Homo sapiens: one gene and its partners. The protein of the gene in region 1 interacts with the protein of each later gene in a biochemical or structural test. Each region holds a gene or a part of one and is shown in the gene's direction. Other genes may lie near its edges.

Evidence for each region. The genes of interacting proteins can lie anywhere in the genome.
Region 2: the proteins of PTGES3 (region 1) and FES form a complex in vitro, tested with the Homo sapiens proteins (one study listed by BioGRID).
Region 3: the proteins of PTGES3 (region 1) and AHR form a complex in vitro, tested with the Homo sapiens proteins (one study listed by BioGRID).
Region 4: the proteins of PTGES3 (region 1) and ARNT form a complex in vitro, tested with the Homo sapiens proteins (one study listed by BioGRID).

The regions. Positions count from the first base shown.
Region 1 is NC_000012.12:56,674,551-56,678,609, reverse strand, and holds part of PTGES3 (prostaglandin E synthase 3), read left to right. Parts: intron 1-4,059. UniProt on the Homo sapiens protein: Cytosolic prostaglandin synthase that catalyzes the oxidoreduction of prostaglandin endoperoxide H2 (PGH2) to prostaglandin E2 (PGE2).
Region 2 is NC_000015.10:90,887,504-90,891,003, forward strand, and holds part of FES (tyrosine-protein kinase Fes/Fps), read left to right. Parts: intron 1-1,802; coding exon 1,803-1,940; intron 1,941-2,013; coding exon 2,014-2,133; intron 2,134-2,336; coding exon 2,337-2,459; intron 2,460-2,588; coding exon 2,589-2,775; intron 2,776-2,862; coding exon of another isoform or gene 2,863-2,897; coding exon 2,898-2,981; intron 2,982-3,478; coding exon 3,479-3,500. UniProt on the Homo sapiens protein: Tyrosine-protein kinase that acts downstream of cell surface receptors and plays a role in the regulation of the actin cytoskeleton, microtubule assembly, cell attachment and cell spreading.
Region 3 is NC_000007.14:17,340,152-17,343,651, forward strand, and holds part of AHR (aryl hydrocarbon receptor), read left to right. Parts: coding exon 1-77; intron 78-2,769; coding exon 2,770-2,913; 3' UTR 2,914-3,500. UniProt on the Homo sapiens protein: Ligand-activated transcription factor that enables cells to adapt to changing conditions by sensing compounds from the environment, diet, microbiome and cellular metabolism, and which plays important roles in development, immunity and cancer.
Region 4 is NC_000001.11:150,814,100-150,817,599, reverse strand, and holds part of ARNT (aryl hydrocarbon receptor nuclear translocator), read left to right. Parts: intron 1-166; coding exon 167-239; intron 240-397; coding exon 398-518; intron 519-709; coding exon 710-812; intron 813-1,193; coding exon 1,194-1,341; intron 1,342-3,360; coding exon 3,361-3,500. UniProt on the Homo sapiens protein: Required for activity of the AHR. Upon ligand binding, AHR translocates into the nucleus, where it heterodimerizes with ARNT and induces transcription by binding to xenobiotic response elements (XRE).

The DNA.
Region 1 (4,059 bases):
CCTTCACTATAAAAAATTGATGCACCAAAGAAGCTAGATGGAAACAGTTTGCTAGGAAAAGTGTCCCAGTTATTTTAATCCATTTGATAGTTTTACTATGTGCAATGCACATTTTATTATAAAAGACAAAACAGGCTGGGTATGGTGGCTCACTCCTGTAATTCCAGCACTTTGGGAGGCTGAGGCGGGTGGCTCACCTGAGGTCAGGAGTTCGAGACCAGCCTGGCCAACATGGTGAAAACCTGCCTCTACTAAAAAACAAAAATTAGCCAGGCTTGGTGGCGGGCGCCTGTAATCCCAGCTACTCAAGGGACTGAGGAAGGAGAACTGCTTGAACCCAGGAGGCAGAAGCTGCTGTGAGCCGAGATCACGCCACTGCACTCCAACCTGGGCGACAGAGCCAGACTCCATCTCAAAAATAATAAATAAATTAAAAATACCTATTTGTAATATGTGAGGAATGAGACATCAAAGTTCTGCTATGGAAAGGAAAAAAGTAGTTCCTGGAGTTCATAAATGGTTTTTCCTTCTTAGGTATCAAACACCTTGCCTATAAATGTCTGACACCAAGCTGTCTCCCACATACTCATTGCTCAGGGAAACCGTAAGATATTTGAGATCTTCTGTAATCAGCTGTAGTACTATAAAACTTTCTGAATAAACCTGCTAGTCCTGTGGCCTGTGGCTACCAAATCATGTGCCAAGATGTATCAGGGCCCCATGGAGGAACTCACAACTACCTTGGGATATTTTAAATTTCAGAGTAATTCAGTGATACTCAACATAAGCCAAGACACTAAGCAAACTATTAGTTTCAGGTTGTTCAGTTTCAATATGAGATTGTACTGCAAACCCCTCCATTAAGTTTCATCTTCTAAAAACTGAATTTCTGGTGGTTGCTATAACTCAAAAAAACACAGGTACCCACCCCACCAAAAAAAAATAATAATAATAATGGGGAACAAGGAGTGAGATGATAGAAGTCATTTCAAAGTTTGAGAAGTTATATAGTATCCAAAAGCCATACACATTCCATTGATAGGTATGGTTATATAAGAAACTATATATATTTTTCTTTCCAATAATGTAAATTCGTTTTTCCAATAGCTACTAGGCTGCTAAGACAATATAGTTATGTTGCTTGGATACAGCTATGTCATCAAAGCAACTGCTAGTTACTCCTTTTGGCTTAAGAGCACAACAAAACTCCTCAGACACCAAGGGCACTATATACCAGGAAGGCTTGTGAACCTCTGTCCTAGCGAGTTATTTTATGTGGTAGTTTCCACTCTAAGATACAAAGGTGAAAGCTGTTCAAGGTAATGTTTTATGGAAAATGTAGCACTTTTTTTTTTTTTTTTGGGTGGTGCGGAGAAGGAGTCTCACTCTGTCGCCCAGGCTAGAGTGCAGTGGCGCTATCTGGCTTACTGCAACCTCTGCCTTTCATGTTCAAGCAATTCTCCCGCCTCAGCCATCCTAGTAGCTGGGATCACAGGTGTGCACCACCATGCCCAGCTAATTTTTACATTTTTAGTAGAGACGGGATTTCACCACGGTGGTTGGCCAGGCTGGTCTTGAACTCCTGACATCAGGTGACCTGCTCACCTCAGCCTCCCAAAGTGCTGAGATTACTGCCATAAGCCACCGCACTTAGCCAGCACTATTTTTTTTTTTTTTTTTTTTTTTTTTGAGTCGGAATCTCACTCTCTCACCCAGGCTGCAGTGCAGTGGCACGATCTCAGCTCACTGCAACCTCCACCACCGGGTTCAAGGATTCTTGTGCTTCAGCCTCCCAAGTAGCTGGGACTATAGGAGCGCGCCACCATGCCTGTCTAATTTTTGTATTTTTAGTAGCGATGGGGTTTCACCATGTTGTCCAGGCTGACTTCAAGTGATTTACCTGCCTTGGCCTCCCAAAGTGCTGGGATTATAGGCATGAACCACCACGCATACCCACTTAGCACTTTTCTATCAAGCAACTCTTGTGGCTTTCCACATTCCGTCTTTTGAGCACTCTTTTTTTAAAAAAATTACTTTCTTGCTTTGGTTTTAGACCCTGAAGCATTCTTCTTTTAACATCCCCAGGAGATAAAAGAATTTTTCTTTGTTCAAGAAAGACTCAAGGTCAAATATCACTCTCTCACTGCCTCCATAACAAATTTTAGACTCTCAGGACTCCATTATCATGTTGTCAAGTATGCAGAAGCTAGTTTAGATTATATAATAAAACAAACTGGAAGTACAGAGACATGGTTAGTTACTTTGCAATAAAAGGACCGCTGGAGAAATTATTGTCCCTTTTTGTGAAGTGAAAAAAAATAAGCCTTCTGTCAGAAATGCTGGGTTCCAATCCTATTTTGGCTTTTTTTTTTTTTTTGGGGGGGGAGACACAGCCTCTCTCTGTTGCCCAGGCTGTAGTGCAGTGGCGTGATCTCGGCTTACCGCAACCTCCACCTCCACCTCCCCCTCCCCCTCCCCCTCCCAGCCTCCCAAATAGCTGGTATTACAGGCATACGCCACCTCGCCTGGCTAATTTTGTATTTTTAGTAGAGACGGGGTTTCTCCACGTTGGTCAGACTGGTCTCAAACTCCCAGCCCCAGGTGATCCATCAGCCTTGGCCTCACAAAGTGCTGGGATCATGGGCTTGAGTCACTGCGCCTGGTCTGCAGTTTTTGTGTTGTGTTTTGAGACGGAGTTTCACGCTGTTGTCCAGGCTGGAGTGCAATGGCGTGGTCTGGGCTCACTGCAACCTCCACCTCCTTATTTCAAGCGATTCTCCTGCTGCAGCATCCTGAGTAGCTGGGATTACAGGTGCCCATCACCACACCCAGCTAATTTTTTGTATTTTTAGTAGAGATGGGGTTTCATAATGTTTGCCAGGCTGGTCTCTGAACTCCTGACCTTAGGTGATGCACCCATCTCAGCCTCCCAAAGTGCTGGAGATTACAGGCGTGAGCCACCGCACTCGGCCCTGTTTGTAGTTTTAATGTGTTAGCCAACTTGTATAAAGGGTCAGCCAGTAAATATTCAGCTTTGCAGGCCACAAATATCTCTTATCTCATTCACATTTTTTTTTTTTTTTTTTTTGGTCTCATTCTGTTGCCTAGGCTAGAGTGCAGTAGTGTGATCTTGGCTCACTGCAACTTCCGCCTCCTGTGTTTTTTTAAAAATATACATTTAAAAAATGTAGGAATCATTTTTGGTTCATGGCCTAACCACAGGTTTTGATAATTTAAATTTGTTTTATCTGGGACATGATCATATAGCTTGCTAAGGCTTTTTTTCTTTTTCTTTTTCTTTTTCTTTTTTGAGACAGAGTCTTGCTCTGTCACCCAGACTAGAGTGCAGTGGCGTGATCTTGGCTCGCTGCAACCTCTACCTCCTGGGTTCAACTGATTGGCCTGGCTCAGTCTCCCAAATAGCTGGGACTACAGGTACGTGCCACCACGCCCAGCTAATTTTTGCAATTTTAGTAGAGACGGGGTTTTACTATATTGGCCAGGCTGGTCTCGAACTCCTGACCTCGTGATCCGCCTGCCTCTGCCTCCCAAAGTGCTGGGATTACAGGTGTGAACCAGCACTTTTTTTTTTTTTTTTTTTTTTTGAGACCGAGTTTCACTCTTGTTGCCCAGGCTGGAGTGCAATGGCCTGATCTCGGCTCACCGTAACCTCCACTTCCCAGGTTCAAGCGATTCTCCTGACTCAGCCTCCTGAGTAGCTGAGATTACAGGCATGCACCACCACGCCTGGCGAATTTTTTTTTTTTTTTTTTTTTTTTTTTTTGAGATGGAGTCTTGCTCTGTTGCCCAGGCTGGGGTGCGGTGGCCTGATCTCAGCTCACTGCAAGCTCCGCCTCCTGGGTTCATGCCATTCTCCTGTCTCAGCCTCCCGAGTAGCTGGGACTACAGGCGCCTACCACCATGCCTGGCTAATTTTTTGTATTTTTAGTAGAGACAGGGTTTCATCGTGTTAGCCAGGATGGTCTCAATCTCCTGACATTGTGATCCTCCTGCCTCGGCCTCCCAAAGTGCTGGGATTATGGGCGTGAGCCACTGTGC
Region 2 (3,500 bases), on another chromosome or scaffold:
GGGCCAAGGATTGGAAACAGGCAACTTACCTCTGAATTACACTATTCCAGGGTCTCATTATTCCAGGGTTTTATTACATTCATTGAGCACTGTTCTGGGCTCTGGATTATACCAGAGAACGATGGTAGACAAAAACATCTGTCCTCAGGGATCTTTCGTGTTAGTGGAGTGAGGATGTGAGGAGCACTAAGAGCCATGGAGAAAAATAAAGCAAGAGAAGTGGATCGGGACCTGGGAGCACGGAGGCAAGGGAGGAGGTGACAGTTGTCCATAGAGTGATCTGGGAAAGCCTCTTGAGAGGTGACATTCAAAGAGGCCCCTGAGAGGGGTACGGGAGTGAATCATGGGGCTATTTGGAGAAAGACCATTCCAGAAAGGAGGACAGCAATTACACAGGCCTTGAGGTAGGAGAGTACCAGGGACTAATAGCCAGGAACCAGTGGTGCCTCTGAGAGTGAGGGAGGGGGAGAGTCATACACGAGGCTGGAGGAGGCAGGCGTCAAGGGCTACTGGGTGATAGAGGGTCTAGCAGGGCCATGGTGAGGACTTTGGCTCTGGGTGAACAAGAATGGCATGATCTGACCTCTGTTTTTTTGTTTCATTTTGTTTTAACTTTTTTTGAGTCAGAGTCTCGCTCTGCCGCCCAGGCTAGAGTGCAGTGGCATGATCTCGGCTTACTGCAACCTCCGCCTCCCAGGTTCAAGTGATTCCCCTGCCTCAGCCTCCCGAGTAGCTGGAACTACGGGCATGCGCCACCACACCCAGCTAATTTTTGTATTTTTAGTAGAGATGGGGTTTCACCATGTTGCCCAGGCTAGTCTCTAATTCCTGGGCTCAAAGCGATTTGCCTGCCTCTGCCTCCCAAAGTGCCGGGATTACAGGCATGAGCCACCATGCCCAGCCCTGACCTCTGTTTTAATAAGGCCACTCTGGCTGCTGTGCTGCAAATAGACTTCAGGGAGCAAGGACAGAAGCTGGGAGGCCAGAGAGCAGGCTCTTGCCATAATCCAGATCCAAGCTTTTGGCCACTAGGACGGGGAGGTAGCAATGGAGGTGAGGCGCGGTCAGGTCCTGGAAGGTGAAGCCAGTGGGATTTCCCTATGGATTGGAAGTGGGGCGTGAAATAGAGGAGTCAGGGGTCACTCTGGGGATTTGGCCTGGAGCAGCTGGAAGATGGAGTGGCTGTTAACTTATGTAGGGAAGGCTGTGGGAAGAAGAGGTTTAGGAGACAAGGATAGCAGTTCATTTATTTATTTATTTATTTATTTATTTATTTATTTATTTATTTATTTAGAGATGTAGTCTCATTCTTTCGCCAGGCTGGAGTGCAGTGGCGCGATCTTGGCTCACTGCAACCTCCACCTCCCAGGCTCAAGCGATTCTCTTGCCTCAGCCTCCCGAGTAGCCAAGTAGCTGGGACTACAGGCATGTGCCACCATGCCTGGCTAATTTTTGTATTTGCTTTTTCAGTAGAGATGGGGTTTCACCACGTTAGCCAGGCTGGTCTCGAACTGACCTCAGGCAATCCACCCGCCTCGACCTCCCAGTGTTGGTATTATAGGCGTGAGCCACTGTGCCTGGCCCACTGGATCCTTATTACAACTGCCAGTGTCCCTCTTATATATATCAGGAAATAGAAGATTAGGGAGAGGTTAAATAATTTGCCTAGAGTGGCATGGCTAGCTCGAAGTGAGGCAGGGGTCAACCCCAGCCCTGACTCCAAACCCAGGGTCCTAGGCCTGAACTGCCCAGCCTTGCCCAGCCTGAGGCTCCCCTGACTGGGGATCCCGTCTCGGGGGCAGGAAGGAGATCCTGCAGGAATACCTGGAGATTAGCAGCCTGGTGCAGGATGAGGTGGTGGCCATTCACCGGGAGATGGCTGCAGCTGCTGCCCGCATCCAGCCTGAGGCTGAGTACCAAGGCTTCCTGCGACAGTATGGGTAAGCCCCGTCCTTGCTCCTGCTGGGCCCAGGGCTGCTGGCCTGTCCACTGACGGGGCGCTGTCCCCCACAGGTCCGCACCTGACGTCCCACCCTGTGTCACGTTCGATGAGTCACTGCTTGAGGAGGGTGAACCGCTGGAGCCTGGGGAGCTCCAGCTGAACGAGCTGACTGTGGAGAGCGTGCAGCACACGTGGGTGGTGGCTTTGCACCTGGGCTGCGGCGGGGCTCCCAGCAGACCACGAGTGTTTATGTAGGCAGGGCTAGGTCGTGGAGACTGTCCACACAGAGCTGTCACCAGGTGGCCGGGCTTGCTTGGCTCTACAGGGATGCACTGGACCTGGGTTGAGGGGGCAGGAGGGCTCGGTTCTAATGCTGCCCTTCTCTTGGGTGCAGGCTGACCTCAGTGACAGATGAGCTGGCTGTGGCCACCGAGATGGTGTTCAGGCGGCAGGAGATGGTTACGCAGCTGCAACAGGAGCTCCGGAATGAAGAGGAGAACACCCACCCCCGGGAGCGGTGAGTGGGCCCCTGCCTGCAGCAGCCTCCTGGGCCTCCCTCCCTCCTACCTACCCTAACTGCTGCTGGCTACCCGCCGCAGACCGAGCCCTTATTCTCATCCACCCTCCCACCCGCCCCTGCCTGCAGGGTGCAGCTGCTGGGCAAGAGGCAAGTGCTGCAAGAAGCACTGCAGGGGCTGCAGGTAGCGCTGTGCAGCCAGGCCAAGCTGCAGGCCCAGCAGGAGTTGCTGCAGACCAAGCTGGAGCACCTGGGCCCCGGCGAGCCCCCGCCTGTGCTGCTCCTGCAGGATGACCGCCACTCCACGTCGTCCTCGGTGAGCTGCCCCATCCGCGGCCGCTGCCCGCCACCGGCCTGCCCACCTGGGGCTGCGCTCCTCATTTTCGCCCTCCCCCTCCCTAAGCCTGGCCACCCGCTGACGTCTGTCCCTGGCCTCAGGAGCAGGAGCGAGAGGGGGGAAGGACACCCACGCTGGAGATCCTTAAGAGCCACATCTCAGGAATCTTCCGCCCCAAGTTCTCGGTGAGTGGCGCCCAGCCTGGGCCCCCCTACTGTTGTGTTTCGAGTTTAATCACTGGGATGTCCTAGAGAGGAGGCTCTGCCCAGGCTGCTTGTATTGGGAAGTTCCTCTCTTCCCTGGGATTCCAGGCTGCAGATGTCCCCAGACCCTGCCCCTGTGACCCCTCCCTTTCCATCGCCCCAGTGTGCTAAAGGGACCAGCAACCTCGACTATTCCATGGCTCTCCCTGCTTCAGGAGCGGGTTGGGGGCCTGTGGCCTGGAGGAGGAGGCACCAGCTTGGTTTGGGGTCTTCCTGCCTGGGCTTCCCTTCCCAGCTCTGCCCAGCGTGAGCCTGGGCCAGTCCAGTGCCCACTCCAGGGGCCTGTGGATGGCTCTGCATGCCACTCCATGGTTGTAAGGGCTGAGGGCATATAGGGGGGAGAGAGAGACCCCCGGCTGCCCCCACGGCCTCTTCAACAAGGTGGTTAAGTGACTCCTCCTCGATCCTCCCTTGCCCAGCTCCCTCCACCGCTGCAGCTCA
Region 3 (3,500 bases), on another chromosome or scaffold:
CAGAACCTCAGCACACCCACGTGGGTCAGATGCAGTACAATCCAGTACTGCCAGGCCAACAGGCATTTTTAAACAAGGTAAGGGTGTTATCAAACTGAATTAAATCTTTCAGTGATTCTTTTTACCTTATAGACATGTTACACATTTTTTATGTCAGCTGATTTTAATCGGTTATCTACAGCATTCATGGAGACAGCATTTTTTATTATATCTGTGACTACCTTTTTTTTTTTTACAAGCCTGTACTTTTTCCAGTATGTTACTAATATATCATTCACCTGATTCATGAGGGAGAAAGATATCAAGGAATGAAGCAACATGAATGTGTCCTTAATATAAGATGACCTAAATTACCAGGTGAAATTAGTTTTTAGAAGTATTTTGTTTAAAATAGATAATTTGGTTTATTCTTTCTGGATTCTTTAAAAATTATATGGCTATTTAAAAATTCAAGCTTTAAAAAACGTATTGCAATTTTTAAGAATAATTTCTTCAAAGCTCTATTTTTTTATATATGTTTGAAATTGAGTTAAACTCAAATTTAAGTGTGCTTTCTTACAATGCCTCTGAAACCCTAGATTAATTATATCCCTGGAATTCAGTCCTAGGCACCTCCATGTTCTCTAGCTATTCCTCCACATTACCTCCCCTATCCTCATCTCATCCTTTAAGGTAGAATGGCTTTCTTTTCTGGCTTTCTTAAAAGAGGTAACTCAGCTGGCTTTCTGTCATGGAAATCAAGCTTGATAGTGCATTTTTGTTGTTTAAATGTGTCATCAGAATCCGTCTGGCAGTGAGCACACTTTAAATCTAAAAATGATCACTTAAAAAAAAAAAGTTAACATAATGTCAGTAACTGCTGTCTCTGGCCACTCAGGAATACATCATGTTTGCATTTATGCTTTTTCCATTAGAAAATATTTAGTTCATTTTAAAGTATATTTAAGTTTAGTTTTAAAGAATATCTTGACTAAAATTAAGCTCCTTGACCCCTGTTTACTCTGTATTAGAGTATAATAATTAAAAGTATGACCTGAAGCTTTATCTTTAATTGTATTTTCTGGCTTTTTCATACATTTTGCTTGTCTAATCGTATATGAGCTTTTTAATAGAAAAGGACAGTGAAAATTTTTCTTATTCCTTACATCCTTCAATTATATTAAAATTGAATAATATTCAGTTATAGTCCGTCTCACAAAATTGCTATGAAAGTATATTTTACTCTTGAGTAAAGCAAATTGTACAGAAGTTAATTCTGTAAAATTACATTTTGAATAAGGAGTTGCATGAGTACCACATAAGTTCTTTGCAGTGTTTTCCCCTCACTACTTTTCACTGCTTCTTTGTAAATAACCAAATAATTCTATAGACCTACATATGTTCCAGAGTACATGTTATTGAGCTAAGACACTCAATATTGAGCCACTGAGTAGCTGTTCAGCACTTGAAATGTGGCTAGTCCAAATTGAGATGTGCTGTGTGAAGTACACATTGGATTTTTGGATTTTGAAGACTTGGCTTGAAAAAAGAATGTAAAATATCTCATCTTTTATTATTGATTTCATGTTGAAATGATTAGTTTTTTCAGTAGCCGCATTACAAAAGTAAAAAGAAACAGGTAAAATTAACTTTAGAAATGTATTTTATTTAATCTACTGTAGCCAAAAATTTAAGTTCTGTATGTGGCTCACATTATATTTCTATTGGATTACACTGCTGTGTACAGTATGTTTAAAGAGAATGGTGACATGAATTGTGTTATGAGTAATGAGAAAAAATCATTTTAAACTCACCATTATCTGGCCAGGTAATACTAACTTTTTATTTAAAGAATTTACAGTGTTGCCATTCATTGAAGATACAGGTTATATGATTTTTACTATAGATTTTATATATGTTTTGGAGGATCTGTGAAGTAATTAACATTTTGATTACTGAAGCCAGTTATGTAGGCTTTACAAAGGTAGATTTTATTTGAAGCAATTAAGGATATGATTTTAATCTGTTTTAAAGTTTCCAGAACGTCCACTAACTAAAATATAAAGGCTCTGTAATCTATAAAACTCTACAGAGCTATACATCTTCATGTCCTTCCTTTTTATTTTTCTTTTTTCTACTAGCAGTTATAGAAACCAGATTCATTGCAGTGTAAGAAAACAAGACAGAGCATTTTCTTTTGGTAACTTGATTCTGTAATTAGAACTATGCTTTCAGTAGTATTCATTAATTAAAAGTATATTATGAATAAGAAATCGGTTAAGAAAATCATACCTGTGGTGTAATATTTTAGGAATATTTAGAAACATTTAGAAAATCAGAAGCTGCCTTTTTTGGAAAAGTTTTGCATTCCAGTGTAAGATTCCTGAATATAATCAATTCATTGATACCTATAACTTCAAACCTGGTCAAAGCAAACCTACTTATGATAGAGAATATTTAACTGTAATTTGTGACTTGTGCTGTTTGACCCATCAATTCCTACCTGACCCAAAGGCAATCTGAAATGAGACAGCTGCATCACTCATCTGTACCATGTTCAAAATTTCCTGTCAAATTAATGGAAAAACAGGTTATAAATGCAACTAATACATAATATGTCCTCAGTATGTCTTCACTGTGTGAAAGATTTAAAATTTAGCAACAGTAAAGGAACTTGAAGTTTACAACTCTCAGGGGTAAGATTTTAAAAATACATGTTAATGTTATTTACTGGCTTAAGATACTTGGAAGATCTATTCCAATAAGTTGCATCACCATTTTTGTTTTCAGTTTCAGAATGGAGTTTTAAATGAAACATATCCAGCTGAATTAAATAACATAAATAACACTCAGACTACCACACATCTTCAGCCACTTCATCATCCGTCAGAAGCCAGACCTTTTCCTGATTTGACATCCAGTGGATTCCTGTAATTCCAAGCCCAATTTTGACCCTGGTTTTTGGATTAAATTAGTTTGTGAAGGATTATGGAAAAATAAAACTGTCACTGTTGGACGTCAGCAAGTTCACATGGAGGCATTGATGCATGCTATTCACAATTATTCCAAACCAAATTTTAATTTTTGCTTTTAGAAAAGGGAGTTTAAAAATGGTATCAAAATTACATATACTACAGTCAAGATAGAAAGGGTGCTGCCACGGAGTGGTGAGGTACCGTCTACATTTCACATTATTCTGGGCACCACAAAATATACAAAACTTTATCAGGGAAACTAAGATTCTTTTAAATTAGAAAATATTCTCTATTTGAATTATTTCTGTCACAGTAAAAATAAAATACTTTGAGTTTTGAGCTACTGGATTCTTATTAGTTCCCCAAATACAAAGTTAGAGAACTAAACTAGTTTTTCCTATCATGTTAACCTCTGCTTTTATCTCAGATGTTAAAATAAATGGTTTGGTGCTTTTTATAAAAAGATAATCTCAGTGCTTTCCTCCTTCACTGTTTCATCTAAGTGCCTCACATTTTTTTCTACCTATAACACTCTAGGATGTATAT
Region 4 (3,500 bases), on another chromosome or scaffold:
CTGACCTCAGGTGATCCACCTGCTTCGGCCTCCCAAAGTGTTGGGATTACAGGCATGAGCCACCATGCCCGGCCTGTTTAATTTGTTTTAAGGTTCTTTCTCCAGATTCTTTTTTAAAAAAAATTTTTTTTTCTATTTGTCTTGTCAACTGGCCTTTGACATATAGGCAGCAGCAACAGCAAACAGAATTGGACATGGTACCAGGAAGAGATGGACTGGCCAGCTACAATCATTCCCAGGTGAGTTGTGTCCTCTTCGTTGAAGAGGGTAGGGAGTATTTACTTAGGAAGTGTTCTCCGGTACTAGTTAGAATGTACATATGTTGTATATGAATTTTAGGGTTATTGAATTGTCATGTTAAATCTTTAATGGTTATTTTTATCATTGTATTCCACAGGTGGTTCAGCCTGTGACAACCACAGGACCAGAACACAGCAAGCCCCTTGAGAAGTCAGATGGTTTATTTGCCCAGGATAGAGATCCAAGATTTTCAGAAATCTATCACAACATCAATGCGGGTATGTTTCTTTCTCATTATCCTTTTAAATTCTCATTTAGATCACTTACTGATGGGCATGCCACTGCCCAGTCAGTAATCTTCCAGTGTTTTTCCACTTAATCATAATACCACCTGAGTAAATAGGAACTTGCTGAACTAATATACTACAGCCCCTTGACTGGCCCTTCCCCAACTCCTTTTGGTCCACAGATCAGAGTAAAGGCATCTCCTCCAGCACTGTCCCTGCCACCCAACAGCTATTCTCCCAGGGCAACACATTCCCTCCTACCCCCCGGCCGGCAGAGAATTTCAGGTGAGCCCCGTATATATGTGCTGCTTTACAGGGCCCTGAGGGATTCAGCTGCTGAATCCAAATTTTATTCTTCCCTTGCTTTCTCTGGTTACTTCAGAAAAAGCAGTGAAGCTTGTAGGGCCTAGCGTGAGGCAAACAAGCTGCTTTTCTTCCTCCTATTTCTTTGCACCTGTCCTATTGCCATGTTCTAGGCTCCATCTCTGTGTGTCCTGGTCAGTGTGTGACTGTCAGTCTTTCTTGTCTTTTCCAAATTGTTATCAAATTTTCCTTAACCTGCAGGAAGTCAAGGGGATCTAGGGATAGCACTAGATTGTCCTTTGATTCCTAGCTTCTGTGATAAATCTATCCTTTTAATCTTTTACCTCATTTATTCACTCCTAGGAATAGTGGCCTAGCCCCTCCTGTAACCATTGTCCAGCCATCAGCTTCTGCAGGACAGATGTTGGCCCAGATTTCCCGCCACTCCAACCCCACCCAAGGAGCAACCCCAACTTGGACCCCTACTACCCGCTCAGGCTTTTCTGCCCAGGTAAAACTTATCATCTGTGTGTTCCCTGTGTATTATTTTTTGTTTGTTTGGGCTTTTTTCCGTATGTAAAATCAGTGTTTTCTATTTTAAATACCTTCTCCCCAACCCCTGTTCTCCGGTTTCCAATTTCCATCTTTGTTGAGAGTAGCTAATTAAAAATCACAGATAATAAAAAAAAATCTCAGTAGAGTCTGTGGTTTTCACCTTAAATCAGAATTGCTCACTTGGAACGTTTTGAGCACGTCTGATTTTCAGATTTGTTTTGGAGTAAATTCTAAGATGTTTCCTCTTTGTTTAGGACTCCATAAGGCAGGAGCAAAGGAGAAAATTAATGACTAACTTACAGTGATGTCTGTTTACAAAAAAGTTGAAAAATTCTTTTTTTTTTTTTTTTTGAGACAGAGTCTTGCTCTGTCGCCCAGGCTAGAGTGCAGTGGTGCGATCTTGGCTCACTGCAAGCTCTGCCTCCCGGGTTCACGCCATTCTCCTGCCTCAGCCTTCCAAGTAGCTGGGACTTGTACAGGCGCCCGCCACTGCGCCTAATTTTTTTTTTTTGTATTTTTAGTAGAGATGGGGTTTCACCATGTTAGCCAGGATGGTCTCAACCTCCTGACCTTGTGATCCGCCCACCTCAGCCTCCCAAAGTGCTGGGATTACAGGCGTGAGCCACCGCGCCTGGCTGAAAAATTCTTTTTTTTTTTTTTTCTTGAGACAGACTGTCACTTTGTTGCCCAGGCTCTGGAGTGCAGTGGCGCGATCTCGGCTCACTGCAAGCTCCGCTTCCTGGGTTCATGCCATTCTCCTGCCTCAGCCTCCCGAGTAGCTGGGACTACAGGGTGCTCGCCACCACGCCTGGCTAATTTTTTGTATTTTTAGTAGAGACGGCATTTCACCGTGTTAGCCAAGATGGTCTTGATCTCTTGACCTCGTGATCCGCCCTCCTCGGCCTCCCAAAGTGCTGGGATTACAGGCATGAGCCACCGCATCCAGCCGAAAAATTCTTTTATAATATTCATATATATAATATAACGCACAATAAATACACTGTCTAAAGAAAGATTCTTTAATATTACTATATATTTATGTTATACAAGTAATAGTTTTAAAAAGTCAAAACCAAAAGCAGGTTCCAGAATGTTATATGCAATACGATCTCAATTGTGTACAAAATGCATGAGAAAATAGAAACTGGAAGAAATTATCCAAACATGTTAACCATGGAATTATGAATGATTCTTATTTTCTTTATATTTTCCTTCACTTTCTGAATATTCTATAATGCATATACAGAACTCTCATGAGAAAATAGTTTTTATAAAAAATACATCATTAGGAACAAATGAATGCAGAACAGACAGAATAATGGTGCAGAGTAGTTTTTCTCTGCATATGGTACTTTTTTTGTTGTTTGTTTTTTTGAGACAGAGTCTCGCTGTTGCCCAGGCTAGAGTGCAGTGGCGCGATCTTGGCTCACTGCAACCTCTGTCTCCCGGGTTCAAGTGATTCTCCTGCCTCAGCCTCCTGGGTTGCTGGGATTACAGGCACGTGCCACCATGCCCAGCTAATTTTTGTATTTTTAGTAGAGACGGGGATTTCACCATGTTGGCCCGGCTGGTCTGGAACTCCTCACCTCAGGTGGTCTGCCTGCCTTGGCCTCCCAAAGTGCTGGGATTATAGGCATGAGCCATGAGCCACCCCGCCTGGCCTGCATATAATACTTTACTGTTATGAATGCCTCTAGTTTTATATAACTTCACAGTTTATAAGATGCTTTCATTTAATTCTTACAATTTTTATTAATCCCATAGTTCATTGCTTTTTTGTAATTTTATCTCAGCTGCCTAAAAAATAGTGTCAAGAGAGATTGAGAGTTAATTGGAAGAAATATACAATAGGAAATAAGTGATGAGCTTGGTTCAGAAGGATGCAGTGATTGACAGTGTTGACTCTCATAGGCATGGTATGTGCAATGATGTTAATGCTGTATTTGTTCTATATCCCCTCTCCATCTCTCTTTAGCAGGTGGCTACCCAGGCTACTGCTAAGACTCGTACTTCCCAGTTTGGTGTGGGCAGCTTTCAGACTCCATCCTCCTTCAGCTCCATGTCCCTCCCTGGTGCCCCAACTGCATCGCCTGGTGCTGCTGCCTACCCTAGTCT